7 linked regions of the Homo sapiens genome follow. The protein of the gene in region 2 purifies or fractionates together with the protein of the main gene of each other region. This does not show direct contact. Each region holds a gene or a part of one and is shown on either strand. Other genes may lie near its edges. The genes, in order: OMA1, SLC26A4, PIP4P2, XPNPEP3, SCCPDH, ACBD3 and TMEM164.

The links.
Region 1: the proteins of SLC26A4 (region 2) and OMA1 purify together in Homo sapiens (affinity purification with mass spectrometry; one large-scale study listed by BioGRID and IntAct). This does not show direct contact.
Region 3: the proteins of SLC26A4 (region 2) and PIP4P2 purify together in Homo sapiens (affinity purification with mass spectrometry; one large-scale study listed by BioGRID and IntAct). This does not show direct contact.
Region 4: the proteins of SLC26A4 (region 2) and XPNPEP3 purify together in Homo sapiens (affinity purification with mass spectrometry; one large-scale study listed by BioGRID and IntAct). This does not show direct contact.
Region 5: the proteins of SLC26A4 (region 2) and SCCPDH purify together in Homo sapiens (affinity purification with mass spectrometry; one large-scale study listed by BioGRID and IntAct). This does not show direct contact.
Region 6: the proteins of SLC26A4 (region 2) and ACBD3 purify together in Homo sapiens (affinity purification with mass spectrometry; one large-scale study listed by BioGRID and IntAct). This does not show direct contact.
Region 7: the proteins of SLC26A4 (region 2) and TMEM164 purify together in Homo sapiens (affinity purification with mass spectrometry; one large-scale study listed by BioGRID and IntAct). This does not show direct contact.

What each region holds. Positions count from the first base shown.
Region 1 is NC_000001.11:58,480,727-58,484,226, forward strand, and holds part of OMA1 (metalloendopeptidase OMA1, mitochondrial precursor), read right to left. Parts: intron 449-3,500; coding exon 239-448; 3' UTR 1-238. UniProt on the Homo sapiens protein: Metalloprotease that is part of the quality control system in the inner membrane of mitochondria. Activated in response to various mitochondrial stress, leading to the proteolytic cleavage of target proteins, such as OPA1, UQCC3 and DELE1.
Region 2 is NC_000007.14:107,712,828-107,715,568, reverse strand, and holds part of SLC26A4 (pendrin), read right to left. Parts: intron 147-2,741; coding exon 123-146; 3' UTR 1-122. UniProt on the Homo sapiens protein: Sodium-independent transporter of chloride and iodide. Mediates electroneutral chloride-bicarbonate, chloride-iodide and chloride-formate exchange with 1:1 stoichiometry. Mediates electroneutral iodide-bicarbonate exchange.
Region 3 is NC_000008.11:90,999,360-91,002,859, reverse strand, and holds part of PIP4P2 (type 2 phosphatidylinositol 4,5-bisphosphate 4-phosphatase), read left to right. Parts: intron 1-3,500. UniProt on the Homo sapiens protein: Catalyzes the hydrolysis of phosphatidylinositol-4,5-bisphosphate (PtdIns-4,5-P2) to phosphatidylinositol-4-phosphate (PtdIns-4-P).
Region 4 is NC_000022.11:40,884,648-40,888,147, reverse strand, and holds part of XPNPEP3 (xaa-Pro aminopeptidase 3), read right to left. Parts: intron 1,836-3,500; coding exon 1,633-1,835; intron 1-1,632. UniProt on the Homo sapiens protein: Catalyzes the removal of a penultimate prolyl residue from the N-termini of peptides, such as Leu-Pro-Ala. Also shows low activity towards peptides with Ala or Ser at the P1 position.
Region 5 is NC_000001.11:246,758,909-246,762,408, reverse strand, and holds part of SCCPDH (saccharopine dehydrogenase-like oxidoreductase), read right to left. Parts: intron 3,376-3,500; coding exon 3,258-3,375; intron 2,453-3,257; coding exon 2,333-2,452; intron 2,239-2,332; coding exon 2,182-2,238; intron 1-2,181.
Region 6 is NC_000001.11:226,152,242-226,155,741, forward strand, and holds part of ACBD3 (Golgi resident protein GCP60), read right to left. Parts: intron 2,737-3,500; exon of another isoform or gene 2,593-2,736; coding exon 2,406-2,592; exon of another isoform or gene 2,362-2,405; intron 379-2,361; coding exon 94-378; intron 1-93. UniProt on the Homo sapiens protein: Involved in the maintenance of Golgi structure by interacting with giantin, affecting protein transport between the endoplasmic reticulum and Golgi. Involved in hormone-induced steroid biosynthesis in testicular Leydig cells.
Region 7 is NC_000023.11:110,174,114-110,178,288, reverse strand, and holds the end of TMEM164 (transmembrane protein 164), read right to left. Parts: 3' UTR 2,517-4,175; coding exon of another isoform or gene 2,472-2,516; 3' UTR 2,374-2,471; coding exon of another isoform or gene 1,891-2,373; 3' UTR 501-1,890; downstream 1-500. Other genes in the region: uncharacterized protein LOC124905230, read right to left, coding at 1,891-2,373, 2,472-2,516.

The sequences.
Region 1 (3,500 bases), on a different chromosome or scaffold from region 2:
GTAATATAAATTTATTCTGTGACATTTTCCTCATTGAAGATATTTTAACATAGATTAAAATACATCAATATTTCATGAAAAATAAATTCTAGAAGAATTTAGATAATATCTGTAATGTACATGATTTGACCCTGAATATCCTTTTTTTTTTCACTTCAAACATCATTTTTTAAAAAGTAACATAAAATGATAAGGACTGCAACATTCTTCATATATCTTGTGTCTCATAAATTTTAATTCAACTGCCCGTTCTTTTCTCAACTATGTATGTTAATGGTATTTGCTCCTGTTTTTGAATAGGAAGAGTATCCATTTTCTGTTTCTTCGTGATATTTAGGTCTTCTTTCTCTGATTCTTCAAGAAAATGCTTCGTGCTGAGTTTGAATAGTAATCGAGGGTCTGGATTAGACAGTGGTGGACAATTACACATCTCTCTAATTTTGAGAGCCTATAAAGAAATAATAAAATAAAAAAATACTATATATATACATCAATGTATTCAGATTGTTTCAGTAATCCCTAATATGCTCCATGTAAAACAAAGAATGTATTGTTATTTTTTTAATAAAAGGTATCTTGATTATAACACATAAAAGAGAACCACTGAAAAATCTACAGTGAACAGTTGTTTTCATGATTTGGTCAAATAGTATTATTTTAAAAACAACAACAATAGTATTAATAATCTGTAACAACTGCCCTAATGCTGTTTTGAGGGTAAACAAATCTTAGAGATACATCTATGGTTTCAGTTAAACTCTAGCAGACCGGAGAATCATTCAGATTTAAAAAGGCTCTATGAGAGATTTTTTTCAAGAAAAACTGCAGAACATAGATGACTGAATATACTGAAAAAAGATATACATAACTGATACAGTCTTGGGTAAAATTGATGATAATAACCTAGTGATATGGTTTGCATATGTCTCCACCCAAATCTCATCTTGAATTGCAGTTCCCATAATTCCCACATGTCATGGGAGGTAACTGAATCATGGAGGTGGGTGTTTCCCGTGCTGTTCTCATGATAGTGATTAAGTCTCACGAGATCTGATGGTTTTATAAAGGGCAGTTCCCCCTGCATATGCTCTCTTGACTGCCGCCATGTAAGACATGACTTTTCTCCTCATTCGCCTTCCACCATGATTGTGAGGCCATCCTCAGCCATATGGAACTGTAAGTCAATTAAACCTCTTTCCTTCATAAATTACCTAGTCTCAGGTATGTTTCATTAGCAGCATGAGAATGGACTAATATACTTAGAAAAGTAAACAAATCAAAATCATGACAATTTTTAACTCCAGGAGAAATAAAACATTGCAAAGGAAGGAAAAGTAATCACAGTGTACTATGGGGCTCAGCTATGACTAGTGCTTACAGTTTAAAATACCAAATCTTGATGAAACCAAAAAGTACAATTTCATCATACTGAGAAGGGGAGAGCTGCATGTGTGTGCACATGCACAGGGTGTGACACTGGAAAGAGAGGGCTTACGTCTCATCCTGTAAGGTGGAAAATAATTAAGGCCCAAAATTGAAGTTAGAATGTAGCAACATAAGCATGTTATTTAGACACAATGGGAAATACTAAAAGAATCGTCCAATAGAATTGGAAATAGTTACCCCTGAAACTGATGGCAGGGTTGAGGGACTGGCTGCTGATTTAAGTAACTAGCCTTAGAACTATTTAACTCTTCAAAGTGGGTATATGGATAATTTTAAGATATAAGAGCCAAAATAATTTTTAAGGATAAATGGTCTTAATATTTAGGAGTTTTAAAAGAAAGACATTTAGGGGAAAAAGCTAATTCAGTTTTTTACGACTTCTGGCTTTCTGATACTGATGTGTCTTAAGGGAAGTAAATAAGGCAGTAAAGGAGACAGTGTTTGAGGGACTGGTAAAATCTTAGAAAGACTATCCAGGCAAGGCCTCACTGATAGGATAATGACTTTGGGGGTCAAGAGGGGGACAGACCTGAAGGACATGAGGAAAGAGACCATGTGGCAACCTAGGGAAAAATCATTCCAAGAGGGAGCTGCGAGTACAAGGGAGATGGGAGCGTGCCTGGGGTGTTTTGGAACAGTGAAGAAGCAGGTACAGCCGAGTGGAGCAGGGTGGAGGGCAGGAGCAGATTATGTAGGACCTCACAGGTCATGCTAAGGATTTTAAGTTTTACTCTAAACAGCCTGCCTCTAATATTTGTGGGGTCCATGGAAAGAATGAAAATGGAGGCCCAGATACCATGTCTCTAAACACCTAAAAGCAGTAAGTCAAGCTAATACACTACTACTTAAAATCTGTTCTATTCTCCTACTTTGAAGAATACACATTCGAAATTACCTGGAAGTCCAGGTACAAAACTAGAATTCTTGAATTTCAGAACATGTAAGATTGCAGGGAGCTTACTGTGTAGCTCTTGCCACTAGCCTGCCATCTGCCCCCTCTCCCAGCCCTAGCTTATCTGGCACTGTAAAGGGCCTTGTGTGAATGTGTTCAAGGAAGAGGTCCAGATGGGCCCTGAAAGCAGGCTCAAACATATCTGGGCAAGGAATTCCATTATTCCAGATACCCTGAGTGGGGTATGGTAGGGGCACAGGTTCTTGTATGCTAACATTTCATTGAGTCCCACAGGAGAGAGGGACTTGTAGTCAGATGCGAGCCAGATAGACGTTCTCTAAGTGAATGGGGTCAGGGCAGAAGCTTGGGTCTAGGAGCACTTCTAGCTCTGATTAGGCTCTGAGTTACCAAGGTAAGCTGGAGAGTTGAAAAAACATTACTTAACGTGAAATTCTTCAGTGGCAGTGGTCTTGTCTTATTTTTCTTTGTATTTCACAGCAGATTTAAGATTTCCTTATATCTAGTGAGTGTTAAGTAAATGTTTAAGTAAACTGAATTGACACAACAAGAAAATGTTTCCCAACTATAGCACTTACAGCACTTAAGTAAACAGAAAGTCAGATCCTCAGCTAAACGGTGACCTACTGTCCAAACTGGGATACCTTTGAGAATGAAATGAGATGCTAGCAAGATTTGCACTGAGACATCAGGCATGAGCCATGACTGTCTCTGCAAAATTGGGACGTACGGTCACTCTTGCATTAGTTCCTTTACAATGATGTTAATTTTCTTTCCCAAGTGAGAAGTTTACCTGTCATGGCTGCTATATCAGTGTAGTGCCTATGTTTAAGCACTGCACTGGCATCAGTAAAGGGGGAGAGTATGGAGTCCAGCAGGTAACAACTGGCACAGCTGAGTGTGGCAATGAGAGATGCAAAGCAACAAAGAGAGGAATAGGATGCCATCCCCTAAGATCTTTGTGTATTCAGTAAAAACTCTTCTCTTATCCTTAAATTCGCTTATTCAGTCTTTTTAATACAACAAATATTTAGAACACCACAGTGAGTAAGGTGCTAGGTACACATTGGTCAGAATAGTCATGGTCCCTGCCCTCATGTAATTTACTTTGTATTTCTCCGTTACTGGGCATTAGAATTGTTCC
Region 2 (2,741 bases):
TGCTTCTCTTTCAATGGCTTAATAGAAAAAAGAATGAGTGTTTTGAGTCTGAAGAAATAGTCAATGCATTGAGGAAGTTTTGTCTTGTATTCCTTGCTCATAGAGACCTCCCGAACCCACTTTCAGGATGCAAGTGTACGCATAGCCTGTGGAAGCAAGGGGAAAACAAAGTGTTGATACAACTGAATTCTCCTTAAGTCTGCATTATCTTTTTTATAAATATGTTTTTATAGTATTGATTGCTTACTGCTACTCATCTTAGGTGTATATCATCACAATAGAAATAGGGTAAAAACTTCATTTCGTATTCATTATACTTTTTTTTTTTTTTGGAGACTGAATCTCACTCACTGTTGCCCAGGCTGGAGTGCTGTGGCGTGATCTCAGCTCACTGCAACCTCTGCCTCCCAGGTTCAAGCAATTCTCCTGCCTCAGCCTCCCGAGTAGCTGGGATTACAGGTGCCTGCCACCACACCCAGCTAATTTTTTTTTTTTTTTTTTTAGTAGAGATGGTCGGGGGGTTACCATGTTAGTCAGGCTGGTCTCAAACTCCTGACCTCAAGTGATCCCCCTGCCTCAGCCTCCCAAAGTGCTGGGATTACAGGCTTGAGTCACTGAGCCTGGCCTGTATTCATCACACTTTAATTGGATTTATTTAAGAGCAATGATTACTATTTATTGAGCACTTACTATGTACAAGGCACTGCTCTTGTTACTTTACATTTATCCTTTAATTTTCACAACTCTGTGGTATTATTACTACTTTACATGAAGATACTAATATGAAGACAGGATAAGTAATTTGCCCTGGGGTGCACAGCCAGTAAGTAGCAGAATGAGGACTAGCACCCAGGTCTGTCTTGTTCTAAAGTCCATGCCCTTGAAACTATTGTGCTATATTGTTTTACCATCTATAGAAACCCTCCCTGAATGATTATTTTACGTGGCAACCAATAAATATCCTATAATATAGCAGTCTTAAGTTTTAATGTTGACATATGAGTTTTTACTCAAACTAAGGCACCCTATATCCATAGAGTCATAAACTACTGGAGCTAAAAGGACTTCTCAGGTCGATAATGACTTTCCTGGGCTCACTAAGCTGGTGGGCCAAGATGCAGGTACTGTGATTTTCACTCTAGCAATGTATTTCCTCCACAGAAATCTCTGCCTGTCATCCTTACTGCCTGATTTCACTATAGGGGGTTGAATGTTTTCTTTGCAACATTTTTTCAAGACCTAGAAAAAGGCAGAGAAGGCAGGCTTATCAGATTTGATTATGACACCAGGTAACGGGTACTGGGGTAGACAATATCCTGGATGTTAGATTCAAAACACAAAACTGGCCAATGTGGTGGCTCATGCCTGTAATCCCAGCAATCTGGGAGGGCAAGGCAGGTGGATTACTTGAGGTCAGGAGTTCAAGACCAGCCTGGACAACATGGCAAAACCCTGTCTCTACTAAGAATACAAAAAAAAAAAATTATCTGGACGTGGTGGCGAGCGCCTGTAATCCCAACTACTTGGGAAGCTGAGGCACACGTGAGAATCTCTTGAACCTGGGAGGGAGGGATTGCAGTGAGCTGAGATTGTACCACTGCACTCCAGTCCAGGTGACAGAGTAAGACTCAGTCACAAATAATAATAATAATAATAATACTAATAATAATACAAAATTATGTCAGTAAACAAGAACCAACAAGATGAAATCCAGCAGAAATAGGTGTAGTTCTGTATTAGGGTCAAAGCTCAATTAAATAAATATAACTAGGGAACTCTACTAGACCATAGCTTGTATGAAAATGCCCCAGTCTTTAGTTGGCCCCTGCTCAATAGAAGCTAAAATTCTGATGTTGCTATTATGAAAGGAAACACATTTTTAAGCTGTAGTAATAGGAATATCTTGATGAGATCAAGGTAGGTCATGGTTGAATAATCTCCATGCTGGCCTGGCCGCATTTAGGGTTTTGTGTCCCCATCGTGACCAGAGAAGCACTGACTGCTTGTTTGTAAGGAATAGAAGGAACTAGAAGAGTCTCAACTGGAAGAGAGTCTGCTGGAGACATGAGAACTATTCTCAAATATTTGAAGGGCTGTTCAGTGGGAAGGTCTGTGTTGCTAAGGAAGGCAGATCTCAGTTCACTAGGTGGTTACTACAGAAAGGCCAAATTGAGTTCTGTAAGCACAAGTAACATTTAGAGACTTCCAACCATGTAACAAACTCCCTTGAGAAGCCGCTAGTGGCCAATGTCTGGAAATGTTCACATAAAAGCTGAATGAACATTCATCAAGGATGGTGTAGGAAGGATTTCTGCATGGGCTAGAATGTTAGACTACTTGATTCTAAGAAATCTTTCAACTTTTTACAATTCTGTGATCTTCCTTCAGTGTTCACCTCTTATCCAGTGGCGAAGCTGCAAAATTTACTCAGATGCTACAAGTTCAGACAAGTTTCCTAGGAATAGTCTGATGTCACAAGAGCATCTGAAATACACAGAATCAGTCTAGGGTGGGGAGAGTGTGTTTTTAAAGCCTTTATCAGTCATATGAAGGAAGGTCATAGGGTTTCTGTTCCTCACATACTATTCCTGAGGCTTATAAAGTTCCTAGCTTAGAAGTTTCCTCTATTCATTTTTTTCCTACCCCATGGCCTTACATCTCTAGAAGAGCAGTATGCAGAGGTGTAGGTATCAAATCAGGAGCAGTGTGTTGGCTCTTGCCAGTTGCTGATCATCCCCAAA
Region 3 (3,500 bases), on a different chromosome or scaffold from region 2:
TGCAGTTTCTTTCTTCTGTTCCTGAGTCTTATCCTGCTAGACCTAGAATGGCCTGGCTACTCCTTTCCTTGCCCTTGTCTACCTAGAAAACACCTATTTAACCTAAAAAATTAGCTGAAACATCCCTTGCTTCTACTCTTCATCTGTAGAAACATTCTGTGGCACAAAGGTTATTCTGCTGCTTATTCCTTGAACAAATTTTCTTTTCACACCTGAACAATTCTAATGTAATCAGCTGAAATGACTTACTCCCCCATCTATTCACATTTTAAGCTATCCTTAAGTCTTGTGTAATAAAGCCATCCCTGGCTGCCTTGTCTGAAAATTGTAATGTAAAGAACATTGTTTGCCGCCTTTTCCCCTTATAAATTCCTGTAGCACTAGCTACACTACCATTTTCCAGGTGTTCTTCATAATCCTAGTGTTTCATAAGGTGTTTTTGTGAAGCGAAAGATTAATAATTTGAAGAGTGAATAGTTAGATGTTTGAGAGCATTGAATGGTCTTTTCAGCTTGGAGATTCACTGTCCACATTTTTGTATATGCCCTTGACTTTCACATGCAGTAATATAAAAAACCAATTAGCTGTAAAAATCATCCTTTTAAATGCATAGCTCAGCTCATATGACAGTTGGGGACCAAAAATGAAGATTAAGTGACAACCAGGACTATCCTGAAGGTATATGCCAACACTAGGGATCTACAGCCTTGGAAGAATGAGAGAGAAGGCATTGGCCTCACACAAGGTAGCGGGGTTAGAATACTGCCTCCTCCCAATAAAGTACTTAAAGTACTCTTCCCCTGGAAAAGAGTGAGTTAGGAAAAAGAAATCAACCAGAAAAGGAAGATTGCAGAGGAAAAAATTTATAAGAACAGTGAATTTAGGTTTATATTTTTATATCACTTATGCGATCTAGGAAAACCTAGTTCCAGAAACTGACTTAAAGTTTAGGGTTAGTATCAGTCTAGGGAGCCTGCGAAAAGCAAATGAAAGTTCTGTATGTAGGAAAGCACCCCCAAACTATGCATGCCAAAATTTTTTTATATTGAGATCTGCCAAAATAAGTTTTCAACAAAAGTTACTAGTCATAGGAGAAAACAAGATTCCAGAAGCATAATCAACATTGACAACAAACAGCATAATTAGACCTCTAAAAACTTCAGATTTATAATTATTAAATATGGAGTATGTTAAAACTATGCCTAAGATGTTTTAAAATAAAAATAAGAGAAAACATGTAAGACTATTTAAAAATTACCAGGTACTCACAGAAATGTATATGTGAGTGTTTGTAGCAAATTTGACACATGCAACAGCTTGGATGAATTGAATTTATGCTGAGTAAAAAAAAAAACTTAGCCATACAAGGTTACCTGCAGTAAGATTTCATTTATGTAACATTTTTCAAATGACAAAATTGTAGAAATAGGGAACAGATTAATGATGGTGTGGCAGGCACAGGGTGCGGGATGGGCAGAAAGGAGGGTGTGGTTATAAAAGGATCCTTACAGTGATAGACTGTTCTCTATTTTAGCTGTGGCAATAGATACATGAACCTAAACGTGATAAAATTGCATAAAATTAAAGAAAAATCCATACTCATATACCTGAGAAATCTGAATATTGGTGGATTATATGAATGTTAATATCCTGTTTATAATATTGTATTATAATTTGCAAGATTTACTATGGGGGAAATAGGGCAAAACGTACATGGTATTTTTATGTGTTATTTATTACAACTGCTTGTGAATCTATAATTGTCTCAAATAGAAATTTGCAAAAAATAACCAGATAGATATAGAAAGAAACAATAGAACTTCTAGAAATTATTACAGAAATTAAAATGCACGTACGGTTTAAAGAACAGATCAGCTAAAGGTGAAGACTAAAGTTGTGAATTGGAAGATAGAGGTAAGTGAATTACCCAGAATCTAGCATAGAGAGACAAAGATGAATGTAAGATTAAGAGAAAATATATTATTAAGATGCCAATTATATATCTGATCTGGAAGGAACAAATAAAGAATGGGATATGGCATTTTAGGAGATAATCTCAAATAATTTTCAGATCTATGAAAGATATGAATTTTTATATTCAAAAAGAACAATGAAATCCAAGCAGGATAAGTAAATGTGTTACAGTGAAATTGTAGAAAACCTAAGAGAAATAGAAGGTAATTAAAAGCAGAGAGACAAAAGGCATATTTTCAATAAGAAAAAGATAACAGTTCTGTCAGCAAATGTCTCAACAGCAAAAATAGAAGCCAGAAAACAAGTTTTAAAATACATCAAAAATACTAAGAGAAATTAACTGTCAAACTGGTATTATACACCTATCTAAACCATCAAAGAATAATGAAGGTAAAATAAGTATATTTTCAAAAGCAAAACCAACAAACTTACAAACAAAACCCAGGGTATCTACCATCCTGGTACCCTTACTAAAAAAAAAAAAAACTGCTAAATGATGAACTAGGGAATATGAACAAATATTCCAGAAGAAATTTCTGCAGTGCAGGAAGGAAAGGTAAACCAAGAAATTGTAACAATTCACCAGAAACACTGACTGTATAAAATAGCCAAAACGACAGTACCAATTATATTAATGCTAATAAGTTTTGAGAAACAAAAATACAATAAAACTGAAATATTGGAAAACAGTAGCATTAAGATGCTAGTGGAATGTTTGGTGTTAAAACTTTCTAAAATCTTTATATTTATCAGGAAGATGGATTTAATAATTGACTTTAGTTTTTAAAACATATGAAAGTTAAAATTTTAAGTGCAACTGCCAAATGAATGAAATAAATTGTAAAACTTTCAGAATAATAAGAGGAAAATGAAATGAAAGAGTCATGGTCAATATAAAAGAAGTCTGGAAATAAAGGTAGAAAAGCAGAAAATACAGGAATAGTAGAAAGCCAAAATAAGGTGTCAGAAATAGTCCATGTATATCATTAGACTAATCTTGCTAGTAAAACTTAACAGTAATGGTAAGACTAGATGTAAGAACAGCTATATACAATTTGAGGAAGGAACACATGAATATTAGAACATAGAATGAATGTATAAGGATAGAAAAAGATACAACCATAAATCACTAACCAAAGGAAAAGACATACCAGGCAAACACTAGCCAACATTAAAATGTAATGTTAATATCAATTAAAATAACAGAGACTGCTGTTTTCTCCTTCCTTTTATTAGTAGACCTCTGAATTTGACTAGCCACTCAGCTAGAGATGGATTTCCTAGCCTGTCTTGCAGATAGTGTGGCCATCTTTAAGTTAGGACCAATGGAATGTGAACAAAAGTGATGAGTACAGTTTTCTGATACTCTCCTTAAAGACAAAATTGCCTGTCTTCGTTTTTTCTCTCCTCTTTGAATTGAGTGGAAAAGCCAACTGGCAGGAATGTTGTTACCTGTGTAGAGTTTGGCAATACCAATCAGGGAGTACAGCTGACTACCAACCCTAGGCTGTACATTTACCTTTAAG
Region 4 (3,500 bases), on a different chromosome or scaffold from region 2:
TAGGTAGATTCACAGAGAAAGTAGAGGTTACTGGGGGCTGGAGGAGGGGAGAATGGGAAGTTATTATTTATCTGTACAGTTTCTATTTGGAATGATGGAGAAAGTCGGGAAAAAGTGGGCACAACAATGTGAATGTACTTAATGTCATTGATTTGCATACTTAAAAACGGTTAAAATGATATATTTTATGTTATGCACATTTCACCACAGTAAAAAGATTTTTTTAAATTAAGTCAATGGCCAACACCTTGGAGAGAATAAATGAAATAGGGAGTTTTGGGATAGTTTCTATCAGTTTGCCAGTGAGATTTATGGTTTACACTTGGTCTCTGTGAAAACTCTCGGGGGGCTTTACTGTTACGTAGCAGGAATATGATTATGTGACCAAAAAAACAAAAATCCCTAGCTGAGATTCCATTTTGGAGTCTCTGATTCTGAGGTAGTCTGTTGCATGTGCCATGGACTGAATTGTGTTTCCCGCAGAATTAATGTGTTAAAGCTCTAATCTCTATGTCTTTAGGAGGTAGTTAAGGTTAAATTAGGTAATTAAGGGTGGGGCTCTAATTTGATAGGACCATGGCCTTGTAAAAAGGCCCTCTTTCACTGTCATGTAAGGACACAGCAAGAAAGCCGCCTTCTGTAAGCCGGGAGAGCCCTCACCAGAAATGGACCATGATGGCACCTTGATCTCGGACTTCCAGACTGCAAAATTATGAGACAATACATTTCTCTTGTTTAAGCCATGCAGACTGTGATATTTTGTAATGGCAGCCTGAGCAGAGTATGACAACACTGGTGATTCCTAATCTGTAAGAGAAAGATACATCCTGCCTGGCCCTCACCTAGGGAGGACCAGAGAAGCCTGCACCTGGCTTCTCTAGACTCCTTGCTTTGAGACAGCCATTGGCTGTGATATATATCCTTACTTTCATATTATGGTTATTTTTTACCCTTTTCCTATAATAAACTGCAGATCTGTAAGCATTGTCACTTTGGGTCCTGAGTCTTTCTTAGAACCAAACTGTTTAACTGACACTATTAGTGTAACTATAAGGAAAAGAAACAGTATTAATTTCTGTCGTTCTAAGGAGAAATAATTAAGATTGATGGGTAAAAGAACCATCTTAACAGAAGGCAGATTTACTTTGTCTTGCAAGGTATTAAGCAAGTCTCTAGGTATGTTCACTACACACTGGAGCAGAAGCTAGATGCCATTCTGCGGTGAGGAGACTGCTGCATTGGGTATACGACCTCAAGAGCTTACGATTTTTCCAATCTGGAAAAAACTTTTTCTTTTTTTCTTGTTTTTTTTTTTTTTTTTGAGATGGAGTCTCGCTCTGTCGCCCAGGCTGGAGTGCAGTGGCCCGATCTCGGCTCACTGCAAGCTCTGCCTCCCGGGTTCACACCATTCTCCTGCCTCAGCCTACCGAGTAGCTGGGACTACAGGAGCCCGCCACCATGCCCGGCTAATTTTTTATGTTTTTTTAGTAGAGACGGGGTTTCACCATGTTAGCCAGGATGGTCTCGATCTCCTGACCTCATGATCCACCTGCCTCGGCCTCCCAAAGTGCTTGGATTACAGGCGTGAGCCACCGCGCCCGGCTGGAAAAAACTTTTCAATAGGAATCATACCTGTGATGTCAGCTTCCCAGCAATCTGCATTCGTTCAATTTCTGCAGGAGACTTGATCAGCCGGAGGCGCTGTATCAGCTGCTGAACACCCCGAACCTTGTTCTTGCTCTTGGCTTTGGCCTCAGTCAGGGGCTGCATATAGTCAGAGTGAAGCTGTGCATGTGAGGGCCTCATCCAGTCATACCAAACCATGTTCGTCTCAGCTTAGAATGAGAAGCCGAAAAATAAATTTAAAACAAAACTACCAGCAACAAGAAATATCAACTGTCATAACGACTTGAACAAGAGTCAAAACTATAAAACCTGTAACGTGGAACTCTAAAGTGTTGAGACTTAAGACTCTCTCAGGACTGAAGCAATAAAGGTTTGATTATAAATCATTAGAAAGGTCATTCCCTGGAAATGGCAAGATATTCTAAGACTGAATATACAGCTTTTCTGCCCCTAAACTTCAGTGTTCTTTATAAAGGATGATACGGGACTAAAGCTTTAGTCAAGCTTTGATTTTCTCTCTTTCTCTCTCTCTTTATTTTTGAGATGGAGTCTTGCTCTGTTGCCCAGGCTGGAGTGCAGTGGCACAATCTCAGCTCACTGCAACCTCCGCCTCCCAGGTTCAAACGATTCTTCTGCCTCAGCCTCCCAAGTAGCTGGGACTACAGGTGCCCGCCACCATGCCCAGCTAATTTTTGTATTTTCAGTAGAGATGAGGTTTCACCATATTGGTCAGGCTGGTCTCGAACTCCTGACTTGTGATCCACCCGCCTCAGTCTCCCAAAGTGCTGAGATTACAGGCGTGAATCACCATGCCCGGCCTTCATTATTAAACAATTAGAACAACTGTTCTTCACCACCACTTACTGAGCTAGAGGCACTTGTTGAATAATTGCACACAGAAGGACAGAAAAACATACTCAGATCATGACTTTATGGGTAAAGTGTCCCATCCTTTCACATAATGATCTCAGTACTAGAGGAAAGGGTTCTCCTCCCATTCTGGAGCAATTATTCATTGCTATGGAAAAACTACAGTTGATATTTCCTCACTTCTCCCTTTGCATCTGCTATACATTCTCTTTGTAAACAATCACAGTTCAGCTTTCAACTTTAGAGACCTAAGGAAATGGTCTGTATTTGCCTAAGATATACGATATAAAGGCTCATTATAAAAATGATTTGCACTTAATATCAGATCTACATTTGTTCTTTTTTTCTAACAGTAGGCTACAAACAGTATTCCTAACAATCCAAGTGAGAAGGTCTGAATATTTTATATGACTAAAAAGTACTTTGGGGAAAGTAGAGGGGAAAAAATCCAGAAAACTTTGATTGGATATGCACTGATTCTATGATTCTATGTCCTATGTGATTCTATGTCCTACATATTTTCATTTTTAAAATAAAAATGGTTCTAAATATATACTACATGGGAAACACCTTCCTACTTACGATAGATGGAAATTTAATTGTCGTGTAATTTTTTTTTTTTTTGAGACGTAGTCTTGCTCTGTCACCCAGGCTGGAGTGCAGTGGCGCGATCTCGGCTCACTGCAACCTCCACCTCCCTGGTTCAAGCAATTCCCCTGCCTCAACCTCCCAAGTAGCTGGGATTACAGGCGCATGCCACCACGTCCAGCTAATTTTTTCGTATTTTTAGTAGAGACGGGGTTTCACCATGTTGTCCAGACTGGTCTCGAACTCCTGATCTCAGGCAATCCACCTCCCTTGGCCTCCCGAAGTGCTGGGATTACAGGCGTGAGCCACTGCACCCGGCCAATTGTTGTAATTTTTAAAAAGTAAAACAATCTCTACTACACGTTCAAAGTGTATGAAATCATAGCTCACTTTTTTAAAGGTTTTTAAACCTTTCA
Region 5 (3,500 bases), on a different chromosome or scaffold from region 2:
GGAATGCTACGAAAAGTTCAAGCAAGAGATGGAAGCCTGCACTACCAACCACGAGACAGAAGCCTGCACTATCCACAAAGTAAAACGGCAACCCAAAGAATAACAGAAAATATTTTCAAGTCCTTCTGTTCATTTTTGAATTAGGTTGTTTTTTGTTATTGAGTTCTAGGAGTTCTCTATATTTTCTGGATATGAATCTTCTGTCAAATATATGATTTGAAAATATTTTCTCCAAAGAAGACATACAAATGGCCAATAATTGCAAATGAAAAGATGTTCAACACTAATAATCATCAGGTAAATGCAAATCAAAAATACAATGAGACACCACCTCACGGCCATTACAGAAAATAACAGATGTCGGTTTGGAAGCAGAGAAACTGGAACTCTCGTATACTGCTTGTGGGAAGGTAAAACGGTGCAGCAGCTCTGCAGAACAGTTTAGTGGTTCCTCAAGAAGTTAAATATACAATTCACATACGGTCTAGCATTCCATTTCTGAGTATATGCCCAAAAGAATTTAAAGCAGAGTCTTGAAGAGGTATCTGTACACCCATGTTCGCAGCAGCATAACTGGCAATAGCCAAAAGCTGGAGGCAACACATGTGTTCACTGATGAATGAATGGATACACAAAATGTGATCCAGACAGGCAACAGACAATCATTCACCCTTAAAGAAATTCGAACACATGCTTACAATATGGATGAACCTTGAAGACCTTACGCTAGGTGAAATAAGCCAGTCACAAAAAGACAAAGACTGATTCCATTTACATGAGGCACTTGGAGTCATCAAATTCATAGAGACAGAAAGCGGAATGCGGTTGCCGGGGCTGGGGGAGGGCGGAAATGAGGAGTTATTGTTTCACGGGTGTAGAGTTTCAGTTGTGCAAGATGAAAAGTGTTCTGGACATGGATGGTGGTGATGGCTGCACAAAAAGATGAATGTACTTAATACCACTCAGCATTTTTAAATGGTTAAGATGGTACATTTTATGTTTTGTGTATTTTACCACAATAAGAAGAAAAAAGAGGCCGGGCGCAGTGGCTCACGCCTGTAATCCCAGCACTTTGGGAGGCTGAGGCAGGTGGATCACGAGGTCAGGAGTTCAAGACCAGCCTGCCCAACTTGGTGAAACCGTGTCTCTACTAAAAATACAAAAAAATTATCCGGGCGTGGTGGCGCATTCCTGCACAGTGCCTACATTAAGTGCACAGGCGGGGGATTAGCCTTGTACAGGGAACATATCATCCAGAGAGGAGGAAAGAAGGTCGGGATGGAACAATGATGCTACGTTAAGTGCACAGGCGGGGATTAGCCTTGTACAGGGAGTATATCATCCAGAGAGGAGGAAAGAAGGTCAGGATGGGAACAATGATGATAGGTCTGAGAGTAGGAATTTGAGGGGATACAAAACAGTGCTCTCAATTATTTTAGTGAGGTAGGAGTTGGGATAATTTACAGATAGGGAAGACAGCTGCAGTTGGGTAGATTTTGAAGAAAGCCACTGAGAGGAGATAAGAGGCAAGACTAACGAAAAGGAAAAGAATCAGCAAGTGATGCTAACATTCCACAGAGGGGGAAACGGGAACTTGCTGCTACCATCTGTTCAGCAGTGGGATTTCCCCCAGGAGTGCCTGGTGTCAAGGAGATGAAAGCTAATGACCCAAGGCCTGAGCCAGGGTTGGGATCTGTAAGCCAAACGGTAGAAAATGAGGCAGTCCTATTGTTGGGGATGCTGGACACACAGAAATTCACTTGATCCCCCGTCGGAATCCAGGGTATGTGGAAGAGGAAGTGAAACTGGGGGCAGAGGAGGCACAAAGGAAAAGATAACAGAGGAGAAAAATGGAGGAAGAAGAATATTTGAGATTTCTGGAAGTGAAGAGAACACAATTTCTGGAGCTAAATGGCTGGGTTCTCATCCCAGCTGGGCCATGTACTACCTGGAGAAACTTGGGCAAGTTTCTTAGCCTCTGTGTGCCTCAGTTCTCTGATGTGTAAAATGGAGATAATAATAATACCTACATTCAAGGGGTGTTTGAAAAGATTGAATAATCTAATTTACATAAAGAACTTAAAAGAGTATCTGAAACATAGTGCCCTGTCAAGTGTTAGATGATACCGTCATTGCACAAAGAAAAATATTATTTTAGTGTCTTAATACAAAAGAAATTACCTGTTTTTGTGTTGGGCCTTGTTTTGAAAAATAGCCAAAGGAGAAGAACCATGGGAACTAAAGGGAAAAAAAAACCGTCAGTGATATTTTTTTAAAACTCATGGAAAATACTTCTAATAAAAATAATCTAATTTCATAAAATCTTACTTACTTTTATGAGAAGTTGCCTTCCAATTCCAAACCTCACAAAGAACAAAAAGAAAAGTCCTGCAAACATCAGCTTAATAACAGAGGTGATGCCTCCCACAGTTACATACGCAGCATACTGAACCTAGATGATGGAGAAGACAAAGTTAGAACATTACTCCCTACATTTTGGACCAAGTAAGAATGTTAGTTACTTGTACCTTTCTCTTCCATCACAAATGTGGAACAAAAGCAGTTTCCACTTTACAAATGCATTATGTTCTGAAATCTTGTTCAGAAACCAGACATTGGGAGCCTATTTTTTGTTTGTTTTGTCAGACCTGGTGAACAGGAAGTATGATAGTCTACTTTTTAAAGAAAATTGTTTATAAATAGTAATTAGCTTCCCCTACTTGGGCACAAAAATCTACATAATCCCTAATATATCTGAGCTTAGCAATCATACATTACAGAACGTAGACTCCTATAAGAAAATGCCCTCCACCTTTTAACTTGAAATATAATTTCCTCCTGAAGTCTCGGCAATGAAAGCAATTACTTTCCTCGCCAAAAGCAGCAGGATGGAACTCCAGGCGTGGCAAGGAGAGAGGGGACAGAAAGGGTTCCAGACATTTCCACAAGCAAAAGAGTTTCTAGCAACTGAAACCCTAAACAGGGATTCTGGGGTGCTTATGACAGCAGGATTTCCCGTATTGAATTTGCTGCTATTGTGTTACATTAAAAAGATATTCAGCAGCCAGATCTGAATCAAAAGACAAGGTTATAAAATACAAAATGTTCTACCCTAATGATTCTGTGTATTTCCAGAGGCTGAAACATGTATTACTTAGCTCTTCCTTTTTCTGCCTTATAAACAAAAATATCCCACACTGAATAGAAAGAGGAACTGTAACACACACTTTATTGATAAATAAACCATATATACTTACTGGTGATTCCTCTAAATTTTCATACAAGTAACGTTGAGTCCTCCTTACAACAGACACATCAGATCCCATAAAAGGAATGGAATAACCTTTGAGTTCCCGACAATAAGAAATTGGCCACCTGCAAGACAGACCTATGAATATTTTGCATTTCCTGCAATTACAACTTTGGCTGGTAAATGTCTGAATAAGCAAATCAGTGGCAGGGCATGGTGGCTCATGCCTGTAATCCCAGCACTTTGGGAG
Region 6 (3,500 bases), on a different chromosome or scaffold from region 2:
TCAGGAAGCATAAGGCTGGGTGACACCTGAACTATGTACCATTTCTGCCAACACACAACCCAGCAGCTACTGAATATGGACCAAGGGTTCTACCTTCTTCCTCCTCGTCGTCATCGCTGGACTCACTGACATGCACGCTGACAGCAGTGTTTGGAGAGTCTGTCCATTCAAAATACACCCCAAACCCAATGTCATAATTGTCTGTGGCAAATTCCCAAAAGAGATATGATCCTTCTTCATGGGTGGGTACTCGAACAGTGACCACTTCTCCTCGGCCCACTGTAATCACGGAATCTGCATCCTGCTGAATCTTCTCTTTGAAGTCTTTGATCTGAGGTCGTGTCCACATGGATGGAGCTGCTATTACTGGAAGAGATTCTAAAGGCAATAGGTATTAAAAAGCTAAAGAAAAAGAGCCTTCACCCTGCAGGTAGCCACATTTTCATAGCACTACCTGATCAGTTGTACTCAGGCACCAAGTACAATATGGTCTAGCTTAGATCAAGGACTTGGAGGAATAAAAAAGCCTCCCCATGGGAGTCTCTCCAGATTACTATGTTTAACAATGTTGCAGGCACTCAGAGGTCATCGTACTTCTTCAAGTAACAATGGCAGCCCACAATTTTAGAAACGAATTTTTTTCAACACTCCCTCTATGGGGATTCAAGAATGACCTTGGGAAGGCCCCAGCTGGAGTGAGGGAAATATTCTAGCAAGGAAGAGAGATTCTGGCTTTAGGAATAAATTACTCTTGTGGATGTGAACAAAGAAAGCTGGACTTTGACTTCAGCCTGTCTGTTGAAAAATTCTTCACCTCCAACTATCCCAAAGTTCTAGGGGCTATTCTAAAGGAGCTCAAAGAAACAAAAACTCGGACAGGATTAGAACCACTAGGGACTGAGAAAAAGGGGTAAAGTCTTGTTACTGAGCAGTACCTATGTGCACTTGACTATGCAATAAGTTTTTCAAAGTTAGTCACAGAGCCTTTGAAATATTTTCTCTCATTTGAAGATGCTAGTATAATCCCTTGATAAGAAAAAAAAAGGGAAGGGGGCAGTAAACCAAGGGATTTCAAAGCCTTTTCTGAAGCAATTATTACTTGTTCTAAACAGACAAGGAAGATCTCTGAAACCAAATTTCTTATGAACCATACCACCATCCCTGACCACTGTCACTGAAATGCTCTCCTCTTCCTCCTTACTTAGTTAACTCCTCTTGCTTCAGATATCTCAGGTCAATTGTCCCTTCCTCTGGGAAGCCTCTGGTGGCCTCTCTGACTAGGTCACACTTCCCTGTTTTACATTCTCTCAAAGATAATGTACCTCTCTCTCCATCACCGTACTTATCACAGCTACAATCTACATTTTCTGTGTGTTATTTTGCCTCACCACTGTACTCCTAGCACTCAGGAAACCTTCAACTAATTGCTGAATGAACAAATGAGCTGCCCATGGAAAGCTAGTAGAGCTTTGAAAATGCAGTTATTTTCTAGGCAACATGATACATTAGTCTCAAAAATATATCTATTTCTATGGTAGCCAGCCTCCAAGATGGTCCCCAGAGATTCTCACCTCTGGGTCTTCATGCACTTGTGAGGTCACCACCCACAATATATAAGGATTGGTATGTGTGACCAACAGAATATGGTGGGAGTTCCAAAGTCAAGGCATAAAAGACACTGCCACTTCTGCTAGGGGAAGCCAGTAACTGTTTTGAGGACCCTCAAGAAGCCCTATGGAGAGGCTTCATGGGGCCAGGAATTGAGCTTCCAGCCAAAAGCCAGCCATGTGAGGGAACCATTTTGGAAGCAGATCTTCTAGTCCTGGCATCAACATCTTGACTGCAATCTCATGAGGGAGCCTAAGTCAGAGCCATTCAGCTAAACTGCTCCTGAAACCCTGACCCACTGAAGCTGTACAAGATAGTAATAAATGTTTATTGTTATTTCAAGCTACTAAATTTAGGTGTAATTAATTTTTGTTTGTTTTTTTTTTGAGAGACAGTCTTGCTTTGTCACCCAGGCAGGCGGAATCATAGTTCACTGCAGCCTCAAACTCTTGGGCTCAAGTGATCTTCCTGCCTCAGCCTCCCAGAGTGCTGGGATTACAGGTATGAGCCACTGCGCCCAGCCTGTAATTTGTTATGCAGCAATAGATAATTTATATATATATATATGACAAAACATAACTTTTGTCTTAAAAGTGTCCAAAGACATCTGATTTGCTCTTCTACACTGGTCTATGAGTCACCAGAGCATTAGATTCAGACTAAAAAGAGTAAAAAAATGTTCAACTCTCACAAATATGTAATTGTTCTCAAAAGCTAATTATAACCTGACTTCATGACTTTTGCCTTTCACAGATTTGGAATTATGACATCTGGACAAACACATATGCAAAACCTACCTTTTGGTCCATTCTCCAGGGCTTCTTCTGCAGCTTCTGGTTCCAGTTCTTTTTCGGAGCTGTCAGTGTGTGTTTTGGCCTGTCCATTAACTGACATCATATTACTTGGTACAGTTGCATTCACTTTTGATGATGTAGGCAAGGAAGACCCAGCCACTACTACTTCCTGTTGTTTCTGTAATGCTGCCTACAAACCAAGAGAAAGTGAAGACACACTGACCAGGAAGGCTAGCAAATAAGACATCTGCCCTGGAGTACATCTGATACCATGCTTTTGCCCTACCAAAGTGCTATGCTCAAGAAATTACTAATAAATTTTTATCAGTTTTTATCCTGTCTATAATGAATATTATTAGTACAATATCAAACTGACAGCTAAAAATAATAAAAAATCAATAAAAATTAATGTGGACAAAAACCTGCAACTAAGGCTCACATTTCTGTGATCTGAGAATCACCATAAAAACTAACCAGGAAAAATGAAAGTAAGGCCAGCCAAAGTGGCTCACACCTGTAATCCCAGCACTTTGAGAGGCGGAGGTGGGTGGATCATTTGAGGTCAGGAGCTCAAGACCAGCCTGACCAACATGGTGAAACCCCGTCTCTACTAAAAATACAAAATTAGCTGGGCATGGCAGCACACGCCTGTAATCCCAGCTACTTGGGAGGCTGAGGCAGGAGAATCGCTTGAACTCGGGAGGCGGAGGTTGCAGTGACCTGAGATCGTGCCATTGCATTCCAGCCTGAGCAACAAAAGCGAAACTCCATCTCAAAAAAAAAAAAAAAAAGTAGAAATAATCAACCCAAAATAAAACTATTAAAGGCAAAAATTGAACACAGTAATGTGCTCTTGAAATTGATGGAAGAAAAAAATCTTGATAAACTTTAAATACACAAAATTTGAATTAGAAAAATTAAACTTGGTGGGAATAGTCACAGAAGAAAATTCACAAAGGCAGAAGCTATAATTGGCAAAATCTGGTATGGGCCCCCAAAGCAATAAAAAAATCAAATATGGACAATTTATTCTAACATAATTGACCCCAAAAAGTCAATAAATTAAAACTTCAGGGAAAAATTATGATCACAATGAAA
Region 7 (4,175 bases), on a different chromosome or scaffold from region 2:
CTGTGTAAAAAGGGCCAATCACAGTCATCATGGGCTGCTCAGCAGGTAGCCTTGGAAAAGCAGGTCTGCTTCCAAAGGGTAAGGCTATCTTGTTCATGGTCCGACCCATGCTGGGTGCAGGCCTGTGCTGAGAAGTGCTGGTGCAGAGCTGGCCCTCAGGAAATCTAGGTTGAGTGGGCCTGAATGTGTTTGCCTTCTCCAGCTCAGTCCTCCAGCCTAGCCCAATGCACTTTGGGTACCAGAGAGCCCAGCAAACGTGCCCGGCAGACAAGCCCTCTGCTAAGAGCAAATGGCCTGCTGGGTCCCTGGCAGAAGTAGGCAATGTGTGGGAATTCAAGGGCAACCAGCCACGCAGCTCCCAGGACAAAAGTGTGCTGAGAAAGCCCAGCTGTCCTTTGAGGGTCTTCCACAGTACGGAGGGCCAGAGGCCCCTTTTGTCTATTTTTCAAAGCAGAGGGCCTTCTGAGAGGGTTCTGGGAAGCAAGGCCAGGACTCCTGGGTTCTCATAAATCTTTTAATAACAGTAAATGAAGAAACATTATAACAGTAAGCCCCATGGTGAGGGTTCCTTTTCATTCAAGGATCTTCAACAACAGAAACACCTGAGACTAAAATTCAGAATGCTAAGTACACAAATTAATGACCATTTATTTCCAAAGGCGACTGCAGATACCATTTCGGTACAATCAAAAGGTTTTACAAGACAGAGAAAACACATTACAAAATGCCCCAAGAGGTGAGCAAACTGGTGGGGGCACAGAGCACGCAAGAACCAGCCTGACAAAAATCCTAAGCCTGCTGCTGTTTAGGGAGAGTACAAAGACTGGTTCTAAGGGAAGCCACTGTGTGGGGGTTCAGGGGAGACAGTGACGGGTCTGCCCAGTGCATAGCAATCCCAGCTGGGAACTGAGGAAGGACAGGGGTAGGGGAAGAGGGGCAGAGGCATTTGCTAAGCTCCTGACAGAAACCATTACAGATCAGCCTATCACATTCTCTTCACTACAATAACACCAATATAAATGAAAGATTCTTTAAAATAGAACACAAAATGGACACCAAAAGAAAGCAAGAGTTTTCAAAACAACAGCTTTGTTTGAAATGACTTTTGTTTTGTTTTATTTTTCATGGGGCTTTGTCTGTTTCTTGCCATGAGTAGCAAACCAGTGTACAAAAATGTCACAGACGAGAGCAACAAGCGACTAGGTTTTCCTGAGCCCAAATCAGCTCACTCTATATACACAAAAGGAGGGCTGCCTCCCTGTCACTGACTCTACCCGCCACAAAGCGGGCAGGATGGGCAGTGGGGGGAGCTCCTTCCCAGCCTGGGGCCTTGCCAAGGAGCCCACAAGGGCCTGCAGGAGACCCTCCATAATCAGCGTCAGTGTCTTGTCTAACAGCATCACACATGGTCCTTTTTTCCTCCTCCCCTACCTCCCCTTCAGTAGAAACCAGTAAGAAAATCCTCTTCAGGAGGGGACAGAGGACTCTGGGTCAACATCTACAAATCCAAGGAAGTCTTTTTGGCAGAGGGAAAAATGGCCCTTCTGCCACTCCCTGAGCCACCTAGCTTACCCCCAGGGCACTGCCCTGCCCCAATACCAGTGCACAGAGACCTGCTGACAACTTGCTCTCTGTGGGGAGCTGTGCCCACTTCATAGGACACTGAATTACCAATGATCACAAATATAAAAACCTCAACAGAGGCTACAGCAAAAGGGGTGATCTGACAGCTAGACTGAGGTACTGTACGGTAAAGTTCGCCGATCACCCTGGTTAGCCCGGCGACCCTGCAAGCAGCTTCTATGAATGCGATGAAGTTTGAGGAGAGAGAGAGAAAGAGATTGCTGACTTGGGGAGACTGAGTCTGTGGCTTCAGAACCCTGCATGCCTTCACAGGCTGACAGAGGAACATGTTACTGTTGTGCCTCTGGGAGGAAGATGGGCCAGATCATCTTTGGTGTACAAAACCAAATACTGAGGGCAGGGAGGACCAGAAGCAGGCGTGACTGGGTCTCTGCTATTTGGAGTGGATGCCACAAGTTGGCCAGCTCCACAGACTGTTCTTGGCCCACATCCCTGGCCAAGGCTACCTAGGGGCTGGAGGGAGTACTCTTTTCCCTTCCTAAGGCCATTTGAAAGGAAACTGCCCTCTTCTACAAACACCCTCACACACGCGCAGAGCTCCCACACGCTGGCAAATGGCACACGGAAACCTGGCTGGGGAACTGGCTTGGCACTGACAGGAAAGCCCTGAGGAGGAGCTGGGAAGACAGCCCCACTGGCCACTGGGTGTGCAAGCTCCAGCTTCTCCCTCACTCCTGTACCAAAGCTGGGGCAGTAGAGGGCCGGCACAGGGCAGATATGAGGGCTACCCTATAAGGTGGGCTACCCTGTAAGGCAGGCTGCCAAGAGTCTGGTTGGGTTGCTTCTCTCCACGTTGGCTTGGCCCAAGATAAGAGTGAGATCTGGACCAGTTCAGATGCCTTATGCTCCCCAATGCCCCAAATACAGGCCATGGCTCCTTGTGAAGCCTATAGACTGGGCCCCCTCTATTCTTTTGACCTACATGTTTCTGAGCCAATCTGGCCCCCAAAAGCCCTGCATGCCCCCTTTACTTCTTCCTTCCTCTGACAGGTGGATCTGTCTCTGGCTTGGCCATGCCAGGCATGTGGCTTTTGCTTTCTTCTCTCCTTCCAAGCACCAGAAAGTGCCCTCCAGAATGGGGTACTAAGCTGTAGACAGAGCAAAGGCAAGCTTGTGGAGGATGTCAACATGGGGAAGGCTCGAGCAACCAGGCAACCTGTGCCATGCCACAGAAACGAGGAGGAGGAGAAGGCCTACACAGTCACACCCCTATGACATTCCGGAGCTAGTCTTCAGCTGAGGCACAGATCCTCTGCTGGCAGCAACTCCAAGTTCTGGTGGAGGACAGACCAGGCCCCCAGGGGCTCCTCCCACAATCCCCTTCCAACTTCTCCTTTTGTAAAGAGGCCAAGGGGCACTGAGGCCTTGTGTATTTCCTCATCAGCTATTCCTACATGTAGCAGTTTGACGGTGGGCAGGGCCAATCCAGCCATTCAAGGAGCACCTTCCCTGGAGGGCCACCCTAAGGTGAGAGGCACTAAGAAAAGTTTGGCCCTGCCTTCAAAGAGGGCCAAAAACAAAGCTTACGCATCAAAAGGAGCTCAGGAGAGTAAGAGCACTTGGTGCCCTCCCCTCCTGCTCCCCAAGCCCTGGGGATTGATAGCCTCAATGCCCGCAGGCCTCTGCAGAAGGACGGTCCCTCCCAGGGTTGCTTCCTATAGGTCCACTTGCTAAAATTATGACCACTGAGGCACCGAAGCTCAGTGTAGGTCAAACACGGTCAAACTGGAAATACTGGAACTGGTCTAGGTCAACTGTGTTGCCTAGAGTGGGACAGGGGAAGGGAGGCTCATCAGACAAAATCACCAAATGAGCTTTTCTGTTCTTAAGCAAATCTGTTCCTAGTGGGAGTCAATGTGGAGTCAGCAATGCCCAGCCACTTCCTGCCTGCTTGAGGTCCGTGCATAACTGAGCTGAAGTCCTTCAACAAAAGCTCCTCCTTGTGGAGCACCTGAACCTCCACCCATGAGGACTTAATTCTTTGGCAGCCCCCTTTCAACCTAGACATGGGATTTGGGGGTAGACAGGATGAGGAGGACGTGATGTCCCCCACATTAAACAATTCAGCACTGAGTGTGGATACACTGAAGAAATCTGGCCCTAGGGAAACAACACTGGCCCTGTAAAACCAAGAAACAGATCTACAGAATCTTCCAGAAATGGGCCCTGATGCGAGGATTCTCCAAACTCAAAAACCAACCAACCAGCCAATTCCAGCTCATTCTTCCCTGAAGCTGCCTGAGAGAGGGAAAGAGGGAGGGAGGGGGGAGGGGGAGGGGTGGGGGGAGAGGGAAAGGGAGAGGGAACACATTTAAGGGGCACTCAAGATTAAAATGGTATCTATTATCAACATTTTCCTAAAACAGAGTGTATGATTCAAATCACAGTTTTCTGTGCTCACTTCTGATTGGGATATGCATCAGTTCTCAACTCTCACAGGCAGAACTTACACAGGGTCTGGCCTAGTACTGTATATATCTTGACCCTCTTCACTTTGGATTTGTCATTGCAATAGATCTCCAACCCTCTCA